3 separate regions of the Homo sapiens genome follow, and all the other regions are linked to region 1. Evidence: fine-mapped expression QTL. A gene starts in region 1. Each other region holds a variant in brackets. All regions are shown on one strand. Distances are between the middles of the regions. Region 1 holds the start of ATXN1 (ataxin 1). Region 2 overlaps ATXN1 (ataxin 1). Region 3 overlaps ATXN1 (ataxin 1).

Evidence for each region. PIP is the estimated chance that this variant, and not a neighbour inherited with it, causes the effect.
Region 2: its variant is fine-mapped to the expression of ATXN1 in whole blood (TOPMed, PIP above 0.99).
Region 3: its variant is fine-mapped to the expression of ATXN1 in monocytes after Pam3CSK4 (Quach 2016, PIP 0.92).

What each region holds. Positions count from the first base shown.
Region 1 is chr6:16,757,667-16,765,852 of GRCh38, forward strand. ATXN1 (ataxin 1) reads right to left here and starts at 3,794. Exons shown (of 8, transcript NM_001128164.2): 1 at 3,632-3,794. It overlaps ATXN1-AS1 (ATXN1 antisense RNA 1), which reads left to right and starts at 3,472. Exons shown (of 3, transcript NR_136240.1): 1 at 3,472-3,500; 2 at 4,453-4,613; 3 at 4,686-8,186. RefSeq lists silencers at 2,202-2,561, 2,572-3,051, 3,122-3,251, 3,728-3,887, 3,895-4,110 and 1 more and an enhancer at 4,248-5,447.
Region 2 is chr6:16,702,841-16,711,026 of GRCh38, forward strand. All of the region lies in intron 2 of ATXN1 (ataxin 1), which reads right to left. Among named protein-coding and RNA genes, the nearest start is that of ATXN1-AS1, 54 kb to the right of the region's middle. The variant A/G (reference allele first, on the strand shown) is at 3,844.
Region 3 is chr6:16,675,923-16,684,108 of GRCh38, forward strand. All of the region lies in intron 2 of ATXN1 (ataxin 1), which reads right to left. Among named protein-coding and RNA genes, the nearest start is that of ATXN1-AS1, 81 kb to the right of the region's middle. The variant GTGGA/G (reference allele first, on the strand shown) is at 3,450.

The DNA of each region.
Region 1 (8,186 bases):
AAAATTGTAAACTGACTGGCAGTCACAACTAAATCAAGACATAATTCTCAATTATCTTTTCTTTCAAATACCAGGGTTATGAAAATACTCCCCCCCGCCCGCCCCCTGCCCCACTTAGTTGGATTGCCTGAGCAGCACAGAGCTTCAGCAACTAAAGCAACTTTTCCTTTTTTCCTTTTTGCCATAATATTATTTCTCTTTGCTTAGCCAGCTTTATCAGTGGTGCCCTAATGCAAAGACTAGAATACTGCTTTCTAACTGCTCACTAAATTACATCCTAAAATAAAGTACATGTTTATTGTCCAAAAGCACCATGCACTATCAGTCCTCTAGCTATAGGCCTCTATCGTTTCTCGCTTAGCTAAGGAAAAAAAAATCCTTTTAACTTACTACCAAAGATCATTCAAATCACAGCCAATAGATCCAAATTAAGAATGAATACATTCAGAATGTCTGCCTACTGTCAGTACCAGTTTTTGTTATGATGGCTGTCAAGTTTTAAAATGTGACAATGGGAATATATTTTCCGAATAAGTTATTCCCCTGAGTAAACCCTTTAGAAATCCAGCCATCGCTATGGGCAATGGAGGTTCCAAATGATGAACGCTCTTCACACTTGAAAGGGTTAAGTGACTGACTGCAAGGCCAAAGGCACCAGACTGCAAAAGAAATGTTGCTTTAGTGAGCTCTGAAAGGTTTCTAACAAGTACCAAATACTTGTTGATCTGTTCACAATAAACACCAGCAGGATTGTCAGGCTCCTTTCACTGTCTGGGGAGATGCATTTACATACTGCACCTAGGAAGAACAGCTTGTTGGTCTCCTTTATAAAAGTTGAGTAGCTAGAAGCCTCATTCAGTGTCTCCCATCCAAATGACTGAAAGAAGATGCAATTGAAATAGTGGAGTCTCTCGTCTGGCTTGGGCAGCATAAATGCTGTGCATAAAACACTTGGAGTAGTTCAGGCACAAGACAAACCCACCTGAATGGACGAGGAACACTGTCTGTTGCCATGGCAGCCTGATCTAATTACATGAGTGATCAGGACTGGAGTAAGTGCACCGAAAACCTACACCACTGACAGGCAGCCAGGAGGTTCAGGGGAGCCCTTCAACCTCTGCTTTATGTAGAAGATGGCATTCAAGTCCATTTATTTGCGGAGCTGCTAAAATATTGACTGATGCATGCACAGTGAGAGGGCAATCAGAGGAGATTAAATGCCACAGCGCTAGCCGTTATGGTGCAATCCCTTTCCAAGAGTTCCTGTGCAGGATTTTCTCTTCTCTCTGGTGGTTTCCTCAGACATAAGCTTCACTCCAAAAAAAGCTCAAGTATCAAACTACCTTTACCCATCAAATAAACCGAAGGGTGGGCTTAAGGGGGGCTTCTAGGAACTGCAGCCTCCTAAAAAACCCAAACAGAAATGTCTCAGCTAACACTGTTGAAAAAGTAACTAGCTGTGCCTAAAAATAACCAAGTAACTACCCACTGCTGTGTGCAATATATAACAATGATGTTTAAATATTAAAAACAGCCTGCATTATAAAACACAAATGTCATTGAGATGTGACTACTAGATTGCCAAAGGAGAACTTATTTGCATACACACATTCCCGTGCATGCACGACAGGATGTGCAGGGAGAAAGCCACTGTAAGGCATTAGTTTTTATTCTGTGGGTGTAATAGGGTCTTCTAATTTTGCTAATTGTATCCTGTGGATCTCGCAGGGAAGCTAAGAATCTCTTCGGGGACAGAACCAGTTTGGAGGAGTCCCTACTGCACAGCATACGGTAAACAAAATAAAAATAGCTTGCCTTTCTTGTTAGCCACATCGCGCATTATATAACCAGCTTCTTCCGACTGTTTTTTTTTTTTTTTTTTTTTTTTTTTTGCCCTTACTACTCTTCAGCAATTTCCCTCTTCTCAAATATTTATATTACCCTTTTATCTGTAGGATTATATACCAAGAAAGCAAAACAAAACAGAGCAGCCACGGGCTCGAACCGAATCCCCGCCGTCCTTAGAAACGGATTTTTTTTTGTTTTGTTTTGTTTTCTGGCAGAGTCTCGATCACCACCCTACTTCCACCCCCACTAAGGTTCTTGCTCAATCTCCCTAGAAAACCTGAATTGTTTCATCCCTTTCAGTCAGCCCCCTACGTGGTCTGAAACAAAATGAAAGCACAAGCCACGGAGTTTAAGAAGGCAGCCTGAAGGCGGGGGGCTGAAGAGGGGTCGGGGCGCTGCAGAGTCAGCCAAGTAGCCAAGGAAGGGCCCCCTCCGCGTCGCGACGGCCCTCGCCCCCCGCCCGGCGCGCGCGCGCACAAATACACACACACAGTCACTCACACACTCACTCACACTCACGCCGCGCTCCGACACCGCCTCACCTCTCGCTCCGCCCGTCCGGCCCCCTTCCCTGCCCCCTGCGGGACCGGCCTGCGCGCAGCACTGGAACCACGTAGGAGGAGGCGGCGGCGCCCCCGGGAGTGGCAGAGTCTCCGGCCCGGCCCAGAGTGAACGAGCAGTGGGGCTCCAGGGCGCATCCCAATCCCCGCAGCGCCTCCTCCGCGGCGGCCGCCGCCTCCTCCTCCTTCCCCTCCTCCTGGCTTCATTCACCCTCCCAGCAGCCGCGCAGCCGTTCACTCCCGGCTCAGGGCAGCGCCTGCCGCGGCTCCTCGTCTCCTGCCGCGGGTGCTGGCGGGGGCGCCGGCCCGGACTGGGGCGCTCGCGGGCTCCCGGCTCCGGGCGGCGGCTGCCGCTGCACATGATCAGGAAGCGGCCGCACCAACAGGGCGGCGGTGGCGGCGGCGGCCAGGGCCGTCACCGCCACTCCAGCCGCGCTCCAGGCACCCGCACACCCGCTACCCCCGCGCGGTCCCCGAGGCCACCCCTCTGCGCCCCCCGCCCGGCACCCGGCCGCGCGCAAAGTCCCGTCCCGGCTGCAGGAGCAGTCCCTTCCCCGCCCGCAGCCGCACACCCGGCGAGGCCGGCCCTCCGAGGGGAGACCCCCGCCCCAGGGCGCCGAGGCCGGGCGACCACCCGCGGAGAAGTCCAGCCCTCCGTGAGACCCCCTCTCTCTCACCGCCCTCTCCGGGGAGGAGGAATGGGAAGAGGGCGGCCGGGAAAGGGACCACCCCCCAACCCCAGCCGCCGCCTCCCCCCTGCGCCACCCGGAGGGAGGAGGACATGGCTCTCCGCACTTGCGACCGGACCAGCAGCCGGGGGAGCGGGGCGCCGCCGCCGCTCTCCCCGCCCGCGCCCCCCGCCCGGGCGCGCCCCCTAGCCCGGCGGGCGCCCACCCAGCCCCTGACAGCCCCCCCGCCGGCCGCCCCTGCGCCCAGAGTGGGGGTGTCGGCCCGGGAGCCTGGAGCCGGGGACGGTTGTATGTACACACATACACACACACACACACACACACGCACACACACAGAACACGACGCGTCGATTTCCTTCGCTCCTCTTCCAGCTGTTTTCCGTGCAGCCGATTGGGGTTTTGGGTTTGTTTGCTGGTTGTTGCTTTTGCCCCTCTCGGGAGATCGGGGGAGGAGGGATTTTAATCTAAATAAGGGGAGAAGGGAATGGGGGAGGGGGGAAAGAATCGGAGGAGGAAAAAAAAATAGTCACTTACTGTAAAGTGTAAATGGATCTGGGGTTGCGTGGGGAAGGGGGGGCAGAGGGAGAGAAACAATGTCTTGCGGCTGCTGTTGCTCTGGCTGCTGCTCCACGGGGCTTGTTTTGGATCCCCCTGCAGTGAAACAGGTCCTGTACGGCTCCGCCACTGTAGTAGAAATGATGTCTGCGGTATACTCTGCTCTCTCCTCCTCCTCCTCCTCCTCCTCCTCCCCCTCCTCCCGCTCCCCTCCCCTCCCTCCTCCCTCCGCCCGCCCGCCCTCCCTCCCTCCCTCGCGCTCTCTCGCGCTCGCTCGCTCGCTCGCTCCAGTATGTAAATGTGTAATAGAAGCCAAATATGGAGCAGTTGGCTGCCGCCGCCGCAGCTCAAGGATCCGACTTCATGGGGGTGGGGGGCACCCTCTGGCGGGCGGCCCGGCGAGCCGCACAGAGCACGGCGAGCGCACCGCGCGGCGGCCGGCCCGCGCCCTTAACCCTTCGCTGCGCGCCGCCCGGGGAGGCGGGCACCTTTCCCAAAGAGTGGCTCGGGATGGGGTGCGGGGGAGGGGAGACGCGGACCGGAGGGCAAGGTTCCTTCCAGGTTTGGGAAGGGGGCGGGGAGCTGGGCGATGAGGTAATTTGAGCGGTGACGGGTCGGTCCTCGCGCGCCTCCCTGGGTCCCTGCACCTAGTTGGAGGGGACTGAACGACAACGGGGCGCTACTCAGGCAACCTGGGGGACTCCCCCAAGGGCTGTCAGGCTTCAGCTGGGAGCCGATGCAACACCCCAGCGGGGAGGGGAGGTCGGCCCATTCTAATCCCGACGTGTCCTTGGTCCCAGGCGCTCGGAGCAGCATCTGAGAGGGCTCACTCTGATCATCAGCTGCACGTTAAGCCACAAACCGGCGTCGCTTCGGCGTTCCGGAACCCAGGCCTGGGGGCCGCGGGGATTGCCTCTGCGTGCAACTCCGGAAAGTTTCAAGGGGTCCCCCGACTGCACAGGTACCCTCACCTTTCCTGCCGGCGAACGCTGGCGACCGCCCGACCCTGCCCTCTTTCTCTCTTCGCACGCAGGTCCGGAAATCGGCTTTGATATGGAACTACTCCGCTCTAGCCTGGAAAGGAGACCCGCGCACTCCTCTCGCAGCTAATTTCGGATCATTAATTTAATCGGAAATGAGGTAACCAGTGTAGGAGACAGAGAAAGCAACCGGAGCATCAAATGGCAGTTCTCGAGAATCGACGAGGAACTTAAATCTGGACTCAGGGTTTCAGTGCGGTCTCCGACTCCCACCACCCCGCCCCTCCGCCTGTCTCGCCGCCAGGTGTGACCTCCACGCGAAGGAATCTTCTTCGGATGGGTGCACCTTGCCAACAGGTGTGGCACCTGGAGGACTAGGAGGCGCCTCCAGACTAAGGGCGCTCAGTGCGGCGTTCTTGTTGCAGATGATTCTGGAAGGCCGGTAGGTGTCGGGCGACATTTGACCTTCTTCAGGTGCTTAGAACTAAGTGTCTGGAAACATGATCCTTTCGCGTAAGTTTCTTTCTGAAAGCCACCAATCTTGACTGTAAGCTGTATTTGAGAGATCTTTTGGCTGAGTTTACTTATGACCTAACGGTTAGTCACCAACTGAGGCAGGGCACAGGATGACCAAAAAAAAAGTGTCAGTTTTTACACAACTCTGGCCTGCAAGAGCCTACGTGCTTCATAAATAAAAATAAACATACGAGCGAGGAAGGTGCAGAGCCCCGGAAATATTTTTTTCTCACATTTTTGAAATACCATGCACATATATGTGGCTATTTAAGTATAACTACTAGTGTTCACTCTTACTCATTTCTACAACTTTTTTTTTTCCATTTAAAAATCGATTATTGTTACGGTTTAAACCTCGGGTTGGTCTAAAGTGACATTGTTGGTCTCATTACAGCCTCTAGTGGACAGTTAACATCAGTTTCCTGAAAAGGCTCTGACTGGTTTTGTTTTCGTTGACAAGCTTTGTCAAGGTGAAGGTTAGTACGTAAGAGCATAACCGGGTAAAATGTCCCCTCACCCCTATCCTCACCCCCGCCCCCAACACCCTGCTTGGCAAAGACGACTTCAGAAAGGAGCAGAAGCTTGTTGGCTTTATATAGAAAAGACGTATGCTTTGTGCTGCAGGTATTATTATTACTGGACTGTGAATAAACAGAAAGCTTCTGCTATTCATTTCAGTTTCAGACAGCTTTCATAAAAACTAAATTCATCTCAAATATTTTTATAACAGAAAATATTGGTTGCCATGTTTTTGGCTTAACTGCGATGTTTTTATTCCAACTCATAATCTGCAAACTGTCCAATCCACCTCCACTCTATTTTTAGACATCTTACATTTAGATAATTTTCAGTTAAAAAAAAGCTAATATTGTAATTTTACGTTGGCACAAGCAGTTAATTTACGTGATTTTAACAACCTTAAATTAAAACACATAATTCAGATTACAGTTAGTCAATTAATTTAAATGTTCTCTCAAGGAAGCTAAATATGTATATTACCCAAATGGTAAAAACAATTAATAAGAAATGTGTCATTTACTTTCTTAGCCATTAAGTTTAAAGCCATAAACTGCCACCAAAATCTGTAACTATTTCTTCCTGCAAGATCCAACATAAACACCATACTCATGAAACTGTCTCATTACCTTTAGTACTGAAATATTTTGTTTTCAGATGGCAAAATATTAAGTGTACAATCACAAATAACAGGCACTGATTCTTTAGAAACAAGACTTTCTCGTGCAAATAAAAACTCAATGAAAAAGGGCAGAGCTTCCAAGAAGCTAGTAGACAAATATATAGTACTATAGTCCTACTCATAAGGCTGGTGTTATGTTTGTAAAAGCATAAGTCAACCTTTGAAATTACAGGAAATCGATAAATAAGGCCTGATGAGCTTGACTCGTATCCTGTGTCATAGATTGCTTAAATACCATGAAAAATAATTGTAATCACATATCTATTTTACTGTTTTGGTGGTATCTACTCTTGAAGGTGTTAAATGGGCCAGCAAGTATATATTATATAATTACATATTACACCCTTACTTAAAGTGTAGTTTTCAAAGTCGCCACAGCAGCACTTGGGAGCTTTTTAGACATTCAGAGTCAAGGGTTCTACCCCAGACATACCAAATCAGAATCTGCCTTTGAACCAGGCCCCTGGGTGATTTCTAAACACATTATCATGTGAAGAACACTGGTCTATACCACAGGGATCAACCTAAATAAATTTGGGCACAAGTGCAGAAGTTAATTCCTCTATTTATTTCTTTTTTGCTCCTTTTTAGTAAGTACAGCCCTTATTAATTTGTGCTTTTCAATGAAAAATTATTATGTTATATGCTTTGGATAAATACTACTGCACTGTAAGTGCACACATCTGCATCATTATTGCCAAAAAAGAATGCTCTGCTGAGGAATGTACTGGGGTCTTGAACATGAACATTTTCTTCATGGCAGCAGAGGGAGCACAAGAGTGCTTAATAAAACCAGTGCACAGGTCTCTCCAAATCATGACAGATTTTACATTGTAGTATATGTTTTCATTGGAAGTAGCCTGTTATGTAGTTCAAAATGAAGCAAATCAACTGAGCAAACACAGATAGGCTTACCAGGTCATAACAACTATGTAACTGAACAGATTGAAAGTTGAATAAAATAAAGATAAACTTCTTTAGAGTTTTAGGCTTGAATTCTTAAAAGAAAGTGGACCTCAAAAGTGAAAAAGATGCCTTAGCTTTGCTCAAAAACAAAGATAACACAACACAGAATCAGGCAACCCTAAGATGCCTTAGCTTTACTCAAAAACAAAGATAACACAGAATCAGGCAACCCTAATAGTAGCTCCTGTTTATCTAAAAACAGAGTCAGTTCACTGGACCCTACATCAGGTAACTTAATTTCATTTGGTGTCATACATGTTGGTTAAGGTCCATGCGCCTTTTGCTGTGTTTACACTCAGAATAATTTTAGGGGTTTCTCCTTAATGCTTGCAGTGGTGAGGATTTAGGTTTCAGTTATACCTACGTAGTATTTCATACTTTTCACTACTCTTCCATATTGCATCCTCAAAAACTCCCTTGAAGCAGATAACATACTTGGTAAAAGCCAAGTATCCAAAAAGTTATGGAACCACATCGTGCTTTCATAACATTGAGTCATTTAATTGTTTCAGTAGTGCTTTGAGGTATTCATAAATGAGGGAAATTATACAGACTAAAGATCCAGAGCATTTTTTACAGTTTTAAAGGTTTTTCAAAGTTATTCTTAGATAATATGTTTATATATTTATTATTTATTTACAAGCAGTCACTTACTCTGCATCTACAATAACTAAGACTTGAGAATATAAAATTGAGTAAGACATCTTAGTGTGCAAGGAGATCAGAGCAGAACAGATCTTACCTTTGGAAAACTGTTAATTTTTACCACGTTGAAACACAAAGATTCATAGTTGATGCGATCCAGCACCTGCCAGAATCATAGCAATCAGACTTCCAAATATGAGAATCAAACATTAGAATCATTAAAAATTTG
Region 2 (8,186 bases), 55 kb before region 1:
GAGAGGATGTGGAGACATAGGAACATTTTTACACTGTTTGTGGGACTGTAAACTAGTTCAACCATTGTGGAAGTCAGTGTGGCGATTCCTCAGGGATCTAGAACTAGAAATACCATTTGACCCAGCCATCCCATTACTGGGTATATACCAAAAGGAGTATAAATCATGCTGCTATAAAGACACATGCACACGTATGTTTATTGCGGCACTATTCACAATAGCAAAGACTTGGAACCAACCCAAATGTCCAACAATGATAAACTGCATTAAGAAAATGTGGCACATACACACCAGGGAATACTATGCAGCCATAAAAAATGATGAGTTCATGTCCTTTGTAGGGACATGGATGAAGCTGGAAACCATCATTCTCAGCAAACTATCGCAAGGACAAAAAACCAAACACCGCATGTTCTCACTCATAGGTGGGAATTGAACAATGAGAACACTTGGGCACAGGAAGGGGAACACCACACCCCAGGGCCTGTTGTGGGGTGGGGGGAAGGGGGAGGGATAGCATTAGGAGATATACCTAATGTAAATGACGATTTAATGGGTGCAGTACAACAACATGGCACATGTATACATATGTAACAAACCTGCAAGTTGTGCACATCTACCCTAAAACTTAAAGTATAATTTTAAAAAAATTCCTTTATAACTCTATATTTCTCTTTATAACCTCTATGAAAAGTATTGCAACTAGGTTTGAACAAAATCATGTAAACAAAAGACTTGGAGACTAACATCTTAATTTTAACAATGACTATACTGGGCTGTGGGGGTAAATGTTTCCTTTCTTTACTCAGTTTAGGAAACTGTGCCTATAATAAATAGTACATCTATGGTGAATGTACTTAATGCCACTGAAATGCATATTTAAAAATGGTTAAAGTGGGTTGGGCACAGTGGCTCACGACTGTAATCCCGGCACTTTGGGAGGCCGAGGCGGGTGGATCACCTGAGGTCAGGAGTTCGAGACCAATCTGGCCAACATAGTGAAACCCCGTCTCTACTAAAAATACAAAACTAGCTGGGTGTGATGGCGCACGCCTGTAATCCCAGCTACCCGGGAGCCTGAGCCAGGAGAATTGCTTGAACCTGGGGGGTGGAGGTTGCAGTGAGCTGAGATCACACCACTGCACTCCAGTGCAGGCAACAAGAGCGAGATTCCATCTCAAAAAAACAAAGCAATAACAACAACGGTTAAAGCAGCAGCTTTTATGTTGAGTGTCTCTAACTACCATTTAAAAACTTAAATCTGTATAAGAGAGCAGGCAAAACACGTCATGGAGCCCACACTGTACGAATGTTTTGGAGGTGCGCACTGAGTTAAAAATAAAAAACATGGAATTTATTTTCATTTCCTATCTAATTTGGTCTCCAGAGCCTGCTAAGTACAGTTTCCATTTCTACTCGGGTGCAAGAGCAATGGCTTATTTGCTGTTTTACGGAGCAGTTCCTTAACTATCATTGCCTCTGAACCCCCTTTCCCCCCAAGATTGACTGTCGGTCTACAGAATCAGTTAAGTGCTACAAATCACTACTAACAGCTCCTGCGAGGCGCTCCCTCTAAGAATCTGTACAGATCAAAATCTCAAGTGCTTACTTGCCCAGGGACTGCCATAATTTGAGGTGTTGCTTCTTTTTAAAGTATAAAAAACAGATGCTCTAAGCTGATGAAAGTAAATGTCCTTTCAACACATCTCTTCCCCAGCACTTGAAAATCTTACCAACAAGAAGTACTTCCCACACTCCGGTCGGTAATTTCTGCACTTTTTTACTTTTCCTTTGAAGCCGCAGTGCAATGTGATTCTACACCCGGGGTGAAACAATTCCTTACGGGGAGCCTTTGGAGAGCACCCCAAACAAGGGGGCTGCTGGAATGCAAGTGTGATGCCCAAGGAGACTGTCTCCCTACCTCAGAGCTGAAGTGATCAAATGCTTCTTGACAACCTTCACGAGAAGTCTCAAAGTTACACACACAGGCTTAGTCATTTCCAAACGTCTGCACCAATGTGCAGAACTTTTCCTGCCCTGCTCTCTAAGCACTCAGCGAGGGGGAGGGGGCACAGTGCAAAACAGACCAGTGAATCAAGCGACCACACTGTAGCCCTACACCAGTGCTCTGCAGGCCCCCTTGCCTCCTCAGGCCTCACCTCTCTCATCTGTAATTGCAGAGATTGGACCCAGTGATCCTAAAATCCCTACCCGCTGGAGCATCCTAGAGTCTCTGTGACAGGAATATGACACGATTGCCCACAGCAGTTCACACAGAAGCCAAAATCCAGGTAGTGAGCCTATGCTGGGACTTGGGGGAGGGCTAAAGTGAAGGCAGGGATCAGAGGGTGAGCAAAGAAATTAATGATACAGAATTCCAGACCTACTTCAAACAATAGCCCTACTGTTTTGCTCACCCCACACTAGGTTTTAGGGAAAGAGATATAAGGATACCTCGTCCTCTGTGAGGTGACTCAACAGTCACAGACCCAAACTGAATGATGGAGCAGAATAAAATCAAGTAACGTAAACATCCACATAGTCCAATTCTTTCCCTGATCCAGTAAGTCACGGAGGCCGTTCCTGAGATCCAGACCTATTTATACAAGTGCAGGCTGGGCACCTTTCCCTGAAGGTCCCACTCAGTTATTCTCTTGGTTCCCCAATCACAGTGAGTGGTGTCATTTGCCCATTCACTTCCTCAAACCAGACACTACCCCCCTCTCATTCACTTCCAATATCTAATTGCTCATCAAGTCCTCTAAATCCTTGCTTATTAACATCTCTCCAATCTGCTCATTCTTTCCATTCTGTCACTTCCATTGCCACTCCAAACTCCATGAGAACAAGGGGCCTGTCTGTCCTGGTCCCTGCAGAAGCCGCAGCACACAGACCTGTGATTAGCATGAAGCAGGTGCTCTGTGGTTCTGGAATTTTCAACATTCCTCTGTCACCTGGATTTCTACAACTGCTTCCTCTCTGGTCTCCTTGCCCACCACCTGGTCCCTTATCATGCCAAATGCATAGCACTAACAGAATGAAATCACTGAAACACACACCTGACTTTTCACATCCCTACAGTCCTTGAATGGGTCTACATTGCATCCAAGATAAAATCCAAGATCTCTGCTTGGCTCACAAGGGCCCTTCCTGATCGAGACCCTGAGCCCCTCTAGCGGTGTCAGGCCTGCCTCACTATGGACCTACCAAACTGCTTATTGCTCCTTCAGCCCATCCATATAATACTATTTTGCACTTCTTTTGTCTTTCTTTGCCCAAGCTTGTCTGAACAACTCCTCATTCTGAAAAGCTTGGACTGAAGGACGTGCTCTGCAGGCCTTCTCAGCACCCTTTCCTCCAGTCAACCTGACTCAGGTATGAAACATACCCTACCATAATGCTTAACAGAGAGCAATGATTAATCTGTTGCCTGCTCCCAGTACTAGAGGTCAAAGACCACATCCTATCTTATGCTTTAGCCTCAATACCTAGAGCAGAATTTGGCGCCCAATACGTATGCAAGAAATCTTTGTTGAATTAATGAAGAATGGAGAAAGAGAACGAGAGGCAGAGAGAAAGAAAGAGATCTTAAAGGAAGAGAGGGCCGGGCACAGTGGCTTATGCCTGTAATCCCAGCACTTTGGGAGGCCGAGGCAAGTGGATCACGAGGTCAGGAGTTCAAGACCATCCTGACCAACAAGGTGAAACCCTGTCTCTACTAAAAACACAAAAAAATGGTCCGTGCGTGGTAGTGCACACTTGTAATCCTAGCTACTCAGGAGACTGAGGCAGGAGAATTGCTTGAACCCAGAGGCGGAAGTTGCAGGGAGCCGAGATTGCACC[A/G]TTGCGCTCCAGCCTGGGCGACAGAGCAAGACTCCATCTCAAAAAAAAAAAAAAAAAGGAAGAAAGAAAGAGGACCCTGAGAGGGTTAAGTGCTTTATTCAGGGCTAAATAAACCAGACTGGGACAAGAATTCAGGCCTCCTAACTTTCTCTGATGGATCCTCCTTCTTCCAATCCATCCCATAAATGCTTTTCAAATTTCTCTTCTCTTCACTTTATCACCTCCCGCTAGACGAGCTTCTACAGTTTTCCTAACAGCTATTGAATCTCTATCATCTCTTTTCAATCCTAGACTTAGATATACAATTTTCTGTCACCTAAATGTCTCATTGGCAGCTCAAATTCAAAAGATGAAGAAATGAAATAATTACATTTCTAACCACCCTGCCACCAAGAAAAAGAAGTTGTTCCTCCTCAGGAATCTGTAGGCTCCTCCTCCCCATTCATACAGTCAGCACTTGAGACAGAAATGTGGAAGCTAGCATCTATTTTTTTTAATTACTATTTCTATACTAGGACATATACCATGTGTTTTACATGTCTTATTTCATTTAAAATGGCAGAACCAAACCTTGGTAAGAAGTCATGCAAATGGAATTTGGGAGGGAAGAGAATAGGGTAGGAAAAAATAAAAGAAATCTGATATTTGCCACTCATACTTGGCACCATCAACTTCTCTTTTTCTCAAACTCCTCAAATACAACACCAAATCCTCCCGGTTGTTCCACCAGTCCTCCCACTCTACTGCCACTACTCTAACCTGGACCCTCCTAAAGTCTCCTGGACTTCTTCAAGAGTACCTAGATGGTCTCTCTGTCTCAATAACACCCCAATGAATTCTATCTTCTACTCTGCCCAGAGAATGAACTTTCTAAAAGTAGAAGTCATTTCCGGTTCCAAGCAAGGTGGGGAAGTTGCACAGGCTAGAGGTTGATGCAGCTGAGAGTTATTTTCCATGTGATGGGGAATTCTTGCAGGAAAGAAGGTGGTTAAGTCTCAGTAGAGGGAACACTGGGGAAAATAGCAGACTGAGAGAGAAGAGGTCCAATGGTTATGAGTGGGGGAGTCATTTGGGGAACTTAAAAATTACTGATAATTTTTAGACATAAAGGAAACTATGTTTATACCTAAGTTTATGTTTAAATAAAGGTATAAATGCTACAAGAATAAAATAAAATGTGTTCGGGAAAAAAAATCCGATCTATCCAAAGGAAGAAAGCAAAACAAAACAAAACAAAAAGTAAAGCCAAGTAGAAAACATTAAATGAAGCTAAAAATCTTAATAAAAATGATTACAGTAAGGATAACTGGGTATAAAGTCACTAATCAAATAACAGAGACAAGTACAGAGCTATGCACAATATGTGGTGGGGGGGAAGAATGATGCGTGTAAAATGAACATATACAATGACATTAAAACTAAAAGATTTTTAAAAAAGAAAATATAAGCAAAACTAAAAACAAAAACCAGGATAGCACTCTGAATATCAGACAAAATGGAATGTAAGGTTAAAAGCATTATAAATGATGGTGAGGGACATCCTAGGCTGGCAAAAGGAACAACCAATAAAGATGATTTTATAATCGTCAACATACATGCATCTAACAAAATGGCACAGAGATATTTAAAGCAACAACTATGAAGAGAAATAAATAAATAAAAATGTAATTAGCAATTAAGGAAAAAAGGGAAGCTTAAAAATTCCCCACGTCTGTGAATTAAAATGTTTACTACTAGACAATTCCCAGAGGAAATAAAATGGAAATACAAAATACTGAGTTAAGTGACAATAAAAGTATATATCAAAATTTGTACAATGCAATTAAAACATAAGGGCTCATTGCAAGACCTCGGCTGAAGTCTGAACAGCCTGCAGCTCTTGTAGCCATATTCAGATCAGTAGATTTCTAGACAAGGAGAATTGCCAGAGTTAAAGGGTCATTTCATAATAATTAAAGGGTGTACTTATTAGGAAGATACATCAATCTTAAAAGTGTGTGTACCTAGGAACAGAAAAAAAAAGAAGACGTTCAAATCAGTGATATAGAGAAAGGAAAGCAAGCCAGGCACGGTGTCTCATGCCTATAATCCTAGCACTTTGGGAGGCCAAGGCAGGTGGAACACCTGAGGTCAGGAGTTCAAGACCAGCCTGGCCAACGTGGCGAAACCCTGTCTCTACTAAAAATACAAAAATTAGCTGGGCACGGTGGTGCATGCCTGTAATCCCAGCTACTTGGGAGGCTGAGGCAGGAGAATCACTTGAACCCAGGGAACAGAGTTTGCAGTGAGCCAAGATTGTGCCACTGAACTCCAGCCTGGGTGAAAGAGCGAAACTCTGTCTCAAAAAAAAAAAAAGAAAAGAAAAGAAAAAGAGAAAGGAAGGAGGAAGGAAAATTAAATCCAAAGTAGGGAAAAAGAAGGAAATAATGAGAAGAACAGAAAGCAAACAGTAGTTCATTCTTTGAAGAGCTTAATAAAATTAATTAACATCTAGCAAAACTAATCACAAAAATAAGTAAATGAAAACATCATTAAAAATGGAAAAGGGGATATCACTATAAATCCTACAGACACTAAATAGATAAGAAGAAAGTATTACTAAAAACTTTATGTCAATAAATCTCACAACTTGGATGAAATAAAAAACTTCTTGAAAAATAGAAAGCATAACTTACCAATAGCAAGAATAAACAGAAAATCTGAAGAGTTGGCTATATGTTAAGAAATTGAATTCAGTATCAAAATCCTTGGCACAATGATGATACAACTGTTCTGTATCCTGATTGTGGTGGTAGTTATGCAACTCTACACATGTTAAAATGCATAGAATTGTACATCAAAAAAGGGAATATTTTACTTTATAATGTTTTTAAATTAAATTTTAAAAACTTAGAACCTTCACACAAAGAGAACTCCAAGCCCAAAGATTTCACTGTGGAATTTCATCAATTTTAAGAGGAAAGAAAATCTTACATAAATTCTTTCAGAAAATAGTAAAAAACAGGAGGACTCCACGAATACATTTTATATAATCAGTATTACTAACACTAACACTAAACCCTAGTAAATATTATATAAAGAAACAAAATTACAGACCAATGTTCTTAATAAACATAGTCGCAAAAATACTTAATAAAATGTTAGCCAAAATATCCAGCAATAGGTCAAAATAACACATAATTATAACTGGTTCTTATCCCAGGAACTCAAGTTTGGTTTAACACTTAAAACCAATCAATATAATTCACCACATAAAGCGGAAAACCATATGACATCTCAACAGAGGCAAAAATGAACTGCACAAAATTCAACACACATTCCCGATAAAAACAAACAAACACAAATTCTTAGAAAAAAGAGAATAGAAGGAAACTTCGTCAATCCAATAAAAGGCAAATGAAAAACCTACAGCTAACATCATGATGAAATAGTGGTGAAATAGTTAATACTTTCCCTGTACGATCAGAAAAAAAGTCCTGGTTATATAAATAATTTGAAAAGGATGATTTAAAAATTACATGTATTATATCGAAAAGCATAAAGTACAATTAAATTTTACCAAAGATATGCAATGTCTCTGCAGGAAAAACAGGGAAACATTCCTGGCAGAAATTCATTAAAAAGGCAGAGAAAGATATACCGTGTTTTTGAATTGAAGTTTCAATATTGTTAAGGTGAATTTTCCTTAAATTTCTCTCTTATGATTCAGTGCAATCTGAACTAACTTCTAACAGGCTTTTTTGGGGGGTAGGGGGATTTATATGGAACTCTGAAGGAGATAGAACACCACCAAAATAATCTTGAGGGAAAAAACAAGACAGAGAGGACTCACGCTATCTGTTTTCAAGATTTACCATAAAGCTATTTAGTTTTTAATTTTAACATTTATTCATTATTTTTGAATTTTATTGTTATTATTTTTGAGACAGGGTCCAGCTCAGTCACCCAGGCCGGAGTGCAGTGGCATGATCACAGCTCACTGTAGCCTCAACCTCCTGGGCTCAAGCGATCCTCCCACCTCAGCCTCACCAGTAGATGGGACTACAGGCACATGCCACCTCACCCAGCTGATTTTTGTATTTTTAGTAGAGATGGGGTTTTGCTATGCTGCCCAGGCTGGTCTCAAACTCCTGAGCTCAAGCAATCTTTCTGCCTCGGCCTCCCAAAGTACTGGGATTACAGGCATGAGCCACCACACCCAGCCTATTATTATTATTTTTAATAGAGACACGGTCTCACTCTGCTGCCCAGGATGGAATGCAATGCTGCAGTCACTGTAGCCTCAAACTCCTGGGCCCAAGCGATCCTCCCACCTCAGCCTCCCAAGGTGCTGGGATTACAGG
Region 3 (8,186 bases), 82 kb before region 1:
TTGTGATGCAAGACACTGCCAAAGGAGAAGCGGACAGGGTTATGGGGAAGGAACATACACATCATCATACATGTCTCCAATATAGAAAAATGCTGCATTCCCAAATGCTGCATTATGAATGAAAACATCAAGGCAGGTAACACCATGAAGCCTGTGTCTCTAATCTGGCTACCCAAATAAGGCTACTAATGCTCATCAACAGGGTAGTATTACATTGGTAAGTGTGAGTGAGTTTGCAATTCGATGAAAAAAATATATATACAACTGAAGATTTCTAAAAGATAATTCACTAACTTACATTCACCCTTTTACATGGCTAGTCAAGAAGAGCAAAAGAATGCTCTTACATGGACTGAGACTCAGGTTTTAAGACCCTGCCAGATTTAATAACCTCTAACTTTTTACCTTGAAAGTTACTGAAGTATATAACACAGTTGTATAAAATCAATGTACAAAGTAGTACATTATTTCAAAACCCACAATTAACAGCCTATGAAAACCAACTCTTTCTGGTATTAGCACTAGTTTCATACATCCTTTTAAATGTTAGGGACATTGAAACATCTTACTTCTTCATTACTGAGTGCCTACTTTGTGCTAGGCCCTGAGGATACACATGAGTAAAATATGGTCCTTGCACTCTCCATCTAGTTGTGGGGAAAATAAACAAACAATGGCAGAGTATGCCACGATTATGAAAGAGGAAAGCAGTCTGAGTGGTGGAATGGATTCTTCTTCCTATAAAAAGAATATAAAATTGGGTTTCCTATCCTGATTCCCAACTCACAAATTAAAGTTTCGGTTATGGACTGCTTGTTGTGATAAAATAATTTTAGTATGATTCCTTCTGGTTGGAAACATCTTCCTACCAGATTTAACTACAAAACTGACCTCTACTCTGGAATGTTCAACTGGCCAAGAAAAGTGTTACATCAACACCAATCACTTTTTTTTTTTCTATTCCATCACAAGATTGGGGATATCATTGTGTTCCTTTCCTCTTATGTCCACTGAACCCTCTGCTGTATTTTGTAGCCTTTCAGATCTAGGCGTTTGTCTCATTTTGCTGTTTCATTTTATTTTCACTTAACTAGTTAACACTTTTTTTAAAACAATGAATGAATCATGTCTGTAGTGGCCACTGCGAGCAAAGCACCATGGGAAATGTAAAAAGGAACAAGAGGTTGTCCTTGTCCTTAAAGATTTCCAACCTGAGTCAGGGAGACAAACATGTAAACAAACAATACGGTGTGAATCAAGGGGAATGTGGGTGAGCGCTGAGAGATGACGAGCAAAGAACTCTGCTGGCAGAGAGCTCCCAGCTGCAACACAGGCATTAATTACGTGTGCTCTGGGAGAGGGGAGTCTTCTATTTTTTGATTCCCCTCCCCAGAATCAGTGCTATTTGAAAATCCCACGTAGGTAAGAGGACAGGGAGGCATACAAAGCCTAGCCATGTTATTTTTACAAGTCAAATATGCTACTGCGTTTATCTAATACTTAGATAAAAATTATTTTTCAGGCCATTGCTTATTGAATTTTCTCTCTGTGTCCTCATCATTAGGTCAGGAGTGGTTTCCAGTAGGTGCTCCACAAAGAGCAAAAAGATGGGGATACAAAACTTGTATAGTAGAATTTTTTTTCCAAGTCCTATTTATCTCATCTGTTTTGCCTGTATCTTGCTTCATTCACACCAGAAAAAGCTGACACATTTGTGCCGTTGTCTGCTGAAGGTTAGTCTTCATGAAATTTAACATGAACATTTGTCCTTTCAAGCAGCTAATTCCTTTTTAAGCAGCTAAATGTTCACCTATGTCTTTCACGGGATGACTAATTGTGAATGTAAGCAAGACAACTGATGAAATTCAGATATAATTGTTTACAATTTTCTATTACTGCTCTTAATTCATTCTGTTTCTGTCAACTATCATACCCTATTTTCTATATTTACAGTGCACTTGAAATTGTTTATGCAACTTAAAAAAATTAAATGGTCATCTGAAAAGTGTTTGGTGCACTCGAATGAGATTTTTTTCTTGCAACTTTTATCAGGGGCTGTTTGCCTAAAAACTTGCTGCTCTAGCCAAAATGTTTTTAGCACAAAATTCTAGCAATAACCTCAGAGCTATCTTTTCTTTGCCACTTAATTTTACCAAGAGCAAAAAGAAGGGAAAAAAAAGTCTCTTCATTTTGCCATTGCATGGCAAAAATGCACATTAACTTAACTCTTCTATGGCAGAAATACAAATGAAATATGTCCAATGCCAATGTTTAAGTTACTTTTAGGATTTCCGTTGACTATCTTATTTTTTCATAATCTGACTTCTTGGATATCTATTTTAATTCTTTTGATTTTGAGAAAATGTACATGTTTGTACCAATTCTAAAGTCTCAGCCAACTATTCAATATTTTCAGCGATTTAGGTAAATCTTACTTCAAATTCTTACTAACAATGCCACATAGTATACCAATCATTATCATTTTTATTCTATCTTATATTAGAAGATGGCTTTTAAGCCAAAATGTTATTTTCTTACAGTTAGTTTGATATGCTATGCTCACAGAGAACCTGGCTGTCTTTTGGCTGGGATGTTCCCAGCTAAAAATGAGAAATCAGAGACAGAAAGCTGAGTAGGAACATAGGATGTGGAATTAAGATTGACCTTTATAGAATATTTTTATCATTCCTAAGAGATTGGAATATTCAGCATACTAATAATTTTCTGATTTAAATATAAGTAGACATCACCATATTAATTTCACCAAAAAAAATGTTTAAGTTAATTTATCAAAAGGAAGGCAGGGAAAGAGAAAAAGAAAGGAGTGAAGGGGCTGGGTGCGGTGGCTCACGCCTGTAATCCCAGCACTTTGGGAGGCCGAGGCGGGTGGATCACCTGAGGTCAGGAGTTCGAGACCAGCCTGACCAACATGGTGAAACCCCATCTCTACAAAAACATACAAAATTAGCTGGCTGTGGTGGAGCATGCCTATAATCCCAGCTACTTGGGAGGCTGAGGCAGTAGAATCGCTTGAACTCGAGAGACAGAGGTTGCGGTAAGCCGAGATCACGCCACTGCACCCCAGCCTGGGCAACAAGAGTGAAACTCCATCTCAAAAAAAAAAAAAGAAAGGAGTGATGGAAGAAAAGATGGATGGATGGATGAATAGATGGATGGATAGGTGGGAGGGTGGATGGATGGACAAATAGATAGATGGATGAATGGATGGGTGGATGGATGAATAGATGGATGGAAGGATAGATGAATGGATGGGTGGGTGGGTGGACGGATGGGTGGAAGGATGAATAGATGGATGGATGGGTGGGTGGATGGATGGATGGATGAGTTAGTGGGTGGATGGATGGATGGATGGATGGATGGATGGATGGATGGATATATGGGTGGGTGGATAGGTGGATGGGAGGATAGATAGATGGATAGGTGGGTGG[GTGGA/G]TGGATGGATGGATGGATGGATGGATGGATGGATGGAAGAATACAAGGGAGGAAGGAAAAAAGGGAGAAAGGGGGGACAGAAGTAGGGAGGCAAAGAGAAGGGAAATATAGTGGAGTGAGTTTTTATGTGGGCGGTTAAGTTCAAAAGTTAAGCAAAAGTCATATATAGTCAAAATTAACTTTGAAAATCCTTTGGCTTTCCCACAAGACACTCCACACAGGATTTTATGTATACTGCACAATCCTTTACTGCACTTTTCATGTACACTGAAGTGTGATAACTATTGGGTTAGACTACAAGAAAGAACTCAATGGAAGAACACATGTAAAAGTCTGTACATTCAAACCATTCCTCTTTTAAAATTAAGTATTGTATCACTACAGTTAAACGGGGGGATTAGATAAAGATAAGTAAAATATTGGTGTTTTCCAGCAAGTATTACTTCATTCTGTTGTAATAGTAAGCTTCTTTAACTTTAATGAATATTAACAAATGTACTGTTGTTAAAGTTAAAGGAACTGTAGGATCTCCTATTGAGTTCATAATGTGGTAATATTAAGAGTAATTTTTAAAATAATTTCTTTTAAAGATAAATATTTAATGTGATTGCTATATTATCTGCCTTTTCAAAAAGTTAAAGCACATAGTCAAGTAAGTGTCAAAAATTTGCCAAGGCCCAATACACCTTTATTTTTCTTTCCTAGTTTTTCACTGTCTTGAAGTCTTTTACCCACAGTCTCCCATATTCAATACAGATAATAAATTCTATCAGAATGTGTAAAGTTCAAATAGGTATCAGAGGCTGCTGCCCTGCCTCTTTGCTCTGTACTCTTGTTTTTTTCTGGTGGGAGCAGAATTGGCCTGTGTAGAGGGTCAGGGGTAGACCCAGGCATCTTTGGGACACTGTAACTAATTATCACAACATTTGCTTTCAGAAGCCCCAGAAAGGCCCCCTACCCCCCAAACATGTCCTTCTGTTCCTTCCTTTTCTTTCTTTTCCTTCTCTAATCTACAGTGTGCTGAGTTCCAAAGCAAATTCTCATCCATTATACTTTTCAGCTTCTTTTTTGAAACATACATTCCTCCGGGAGGATTAACAAACTGAGATACTAACAAGCTGTGTGGTTCATTCATCAGACCCTTCAAGGGAAGAAGGACCCAGGGCAGCTCTGACACTGGGGCAGGGGTGAGGCATCACCCAAGAGAGAGCAAGGGGCAGGTTCCAGAAAACAAGGGAAACCAGTTACTGTCCTATGCTCCAACTGCCTAAACCTTAAAATGAAACAAATACAAGTAATGGGTGTTTTTCACTGTTATATACAAGGCAGCCTATTGGCCACATAATTCTTAAACAACCAGAAAAAAGCTGAAGTATGACCATCAATACGGGACATGGAACATGCCAAAAGATCGAAAGATTCTTTCTTCCCCCTCTTTAGGACTAAACAGCTGTGGGCATAAAGAAAAAATAAATTCCATTATTTTAGAAAGCATAATATTCCACCCTTCATTATTTCTTTGAGAATGGTTGGAATTATTACATCTACGAGAGGTTAGCCTCTATCGATTGAGTGATTTCATTAAAAAAATTAAACCAGTGATTGAGCTAAAATGAGTGGCCAAGCTACAAGACCAAAAATTGTGTGTGGTCAACAGGTGAGAGGAATGTGGAATATAGGAGCTACCTAATCAATTCCAAAGGAAGGGAGACATGATGATGATGATTGTTATTTCTCCCCACCAATGGGACAGTGCTCCAGTAGACCCCAGGATCTTCTATTTAATGGCTGTTGTAAGACTCTATCTCTGTTCCTCTTGGAAGAAAAGGTGCCACTGAGGACAAGGGAACAAGAATCTGTGTCAATCAACAATGCCCCTGAAGTAAACCAGGCAGGTCCGCACTGCACAGTCTCAGCTGTAATTCTATCCCAAGAAACCAGAGCACAGGACCAGAGCCACACTTAAGCCTGCAGTGTAGGGTGACGCCATGGGGCCACGTGACAGCCTGCCTCTCCAAAGCTGTTACTGTCAGTAGTATTTAGAGGAAAGGAAAAAAGTTGTAACAAGTGTAACACGAACATTAAGGAATACCAAGTCAGAGCCAATTAGGACGATAATTTGGCACTCCTGCCTCATGCATATGAAAAAGGATCCGCCATCAATGAGCAATAATGCATGGGATTTGTGGGAATGCTCTAACTTCAATACATCAAAGACGCTGCTGCACACCTCCGTCTTTTTTATTCCCATTAGCTCACCCTTGTCTGGATGAAAGAGCTCAGTGAATCAACTGCTTCTGTTGAACTGTTTATATATTTTTCAAGTCATGATTAGGCCATTAGTCACTGAGCATATTGCACAGTAAACTAGAGTAACTGCCATTATGCAACTTCCCAAGAACATACAGAGAGCATTTACAGTGAGGCCACAGTGCCAGCAAAATGTGCAATGGAGACTATTTATCAGCAATTATAAGAACTGTGCATTTAAATGCCAAATAAAATATACACGTGGCAGATACAGAACTTGAGGGGGAAAAGATGCATGATTAAAGTACCAATATTTGCTCTTCTGAATGTATTAGAGCCTGAAAACGAAAGTCCCCCTGAACCAGAAGCGAATCTTGAACTCAGTCTCAGTTAGCTTGGTTAGCCGCTGTTCTCCTTCCGAATGCCCCCATACCTGCCAACATCTGTATCTGAACACACTCAATGTTGGGTCCAACATAAGGAATTTCCCTTCTTCTTTCTTATTAAAGATTCCCAGGCCTCAGCATCACCCCCTACCCAAGCACTTGGATAATTCAGTAGAGGCCACTGGGGAGAACTTTTTTTTTTTGAGATGGAGTCTCACTCTGTCACCCAGGCTGGAGTGCAGTGATGCAATCTCAGCTCACTGCAACCTCCACCTCCCAGGTTCAAGTGATTCTCGTGCCTCAGCCTCCCAAGTAGCTGGGATTACAGGTGTGCACCACCACACCCAGCTAATTTTTGTATTTTTAGTAAAGATGCAGTTTCACCATGATGGCCAGGCTTGTCTCGAACTCCTGACCTCAGGTGATCTGTCCGCCTCGGCCTCCCAAAGTGCTGGGATTACAGGTGTGAGCCACCGCGCCTGGCCTCTCTGGGGTTTTCTGAAGCCACATAGACTTACATGTTTGAGGATTTCCCATTCAAAGTCCTAAAGAACACTAATAGAAGAAAAAGAAAGGAACATGTAAAAGTGGCATTTAATTTATCAGGACCCTTAGTCACATTCACATACATTGCCCATGATAAGCCAGTGACAAATATAATTGAAGTTTTAAAGTACATGTGCAAGGGATCAGCTACTTGAAACCTCCCAGCAGGAAAACAAGAAATAAGGGACCATGAGGAAGAGATCCAGGTCTCCACATTTACTGTACAAGTAATAACATAAGCAAGAGACTTCCTAAGAGTGTTTTATAGTATTTTACATGGCAAGACTCTTACTCTCCAGTCTGTTAATCCTCACTTTCCCGCTTCTATTCATATGCTTTATATGTATTTATTTGTTGAGTTATATATTTTAGCTGAACTTGGAATGACAGTTATTTTTAAGAGGCTACCAACATGGGTCAGGAAGAACCTCAGAAACCTGGCTCACAGTTGCTCTGGCATAAAAAGCCTTGACCGCCAAAACCAACCAGGGAGTTGATGAGATCTAGGTTTCCAAAACACCACGAAAAGGCATCTTTTGCTTTCTCCCATCTGGCCATTAAAAAAAAAAATAGTTATTTACCAAAGAAGATTCTTTTTGTAATACAATCAATCACTTCCTCCTGTGTTTAGGGTTCAAATCTAGAAGTCCATATGTCAGTCTAGCTTAGAGCAAAATGTAGCTTTCTTCACCTTGGACTAGAACAACCTATGAGAGAAAGATGGTGCCCAATGGGCCAGCACACAGCTGCTTTCTAAATTGACAGCCCTGAGCTTCTCCATGGACAGTGTTCCAAAACTAACTGTGGCTGTTAGGATAAAGAGGGCAGTTTCTCAGCTTCAGTGCCTTTAAGGTTATTTCAACTTTCCACCTCTGTTAACTACGCTGCAGAAACTTTTGACACTGAACTCTCCTTAATATCCATAAGCCAGAGATGTTCATTAGAAAAATTTCTCACTCCTCATCAGACAGCTGAAGACCTGAGTCCTTTGTCTTCCCCTATTCTGGAGATCACATTGAAGGGATTTTTGGGCTACCTGAAAGTGTTTATGACAGACAGACTCTTGGATTCAGGCTTAGGACAAGCAAACCTTTCATATGAGTCCTTAAAAACAGACAGTGCTCTGTTTGTAACTTTGAACTCCATTCTAGTACAAACATGCTTGGCAACTAGTGCCGGAGGGTTAACCAGAGAGTTTTCTTCCTGGCAAATTGCTCTGCCGCCACCATGGGTATTAACACTCCAGGATCCCTGCAACTTTCCCTTCTTCCTCTATTCCTCATCCCCTGCCCTGAGATATTATCTGTGCCCAAGCTGCAGGGGTTGAGGTCACACATCTGGTGCCAAGGAGCTGTCAGTGCCTCCAGCAGTGGCACAGTTCATGGTTCACGGTTCTTCTCCTGGCCCCTCCCTTGGTCTGGCATGCTGACAGAAAATTGTTCTTTTTTTCATCATTTGTCTGTGACTCAGAGGCAGACCATGGGGCCAACAAATCCAGCCCATGATCACGCTTGAAGGCACAGGGATATCTAGAAGTCATCCCCCAAACTT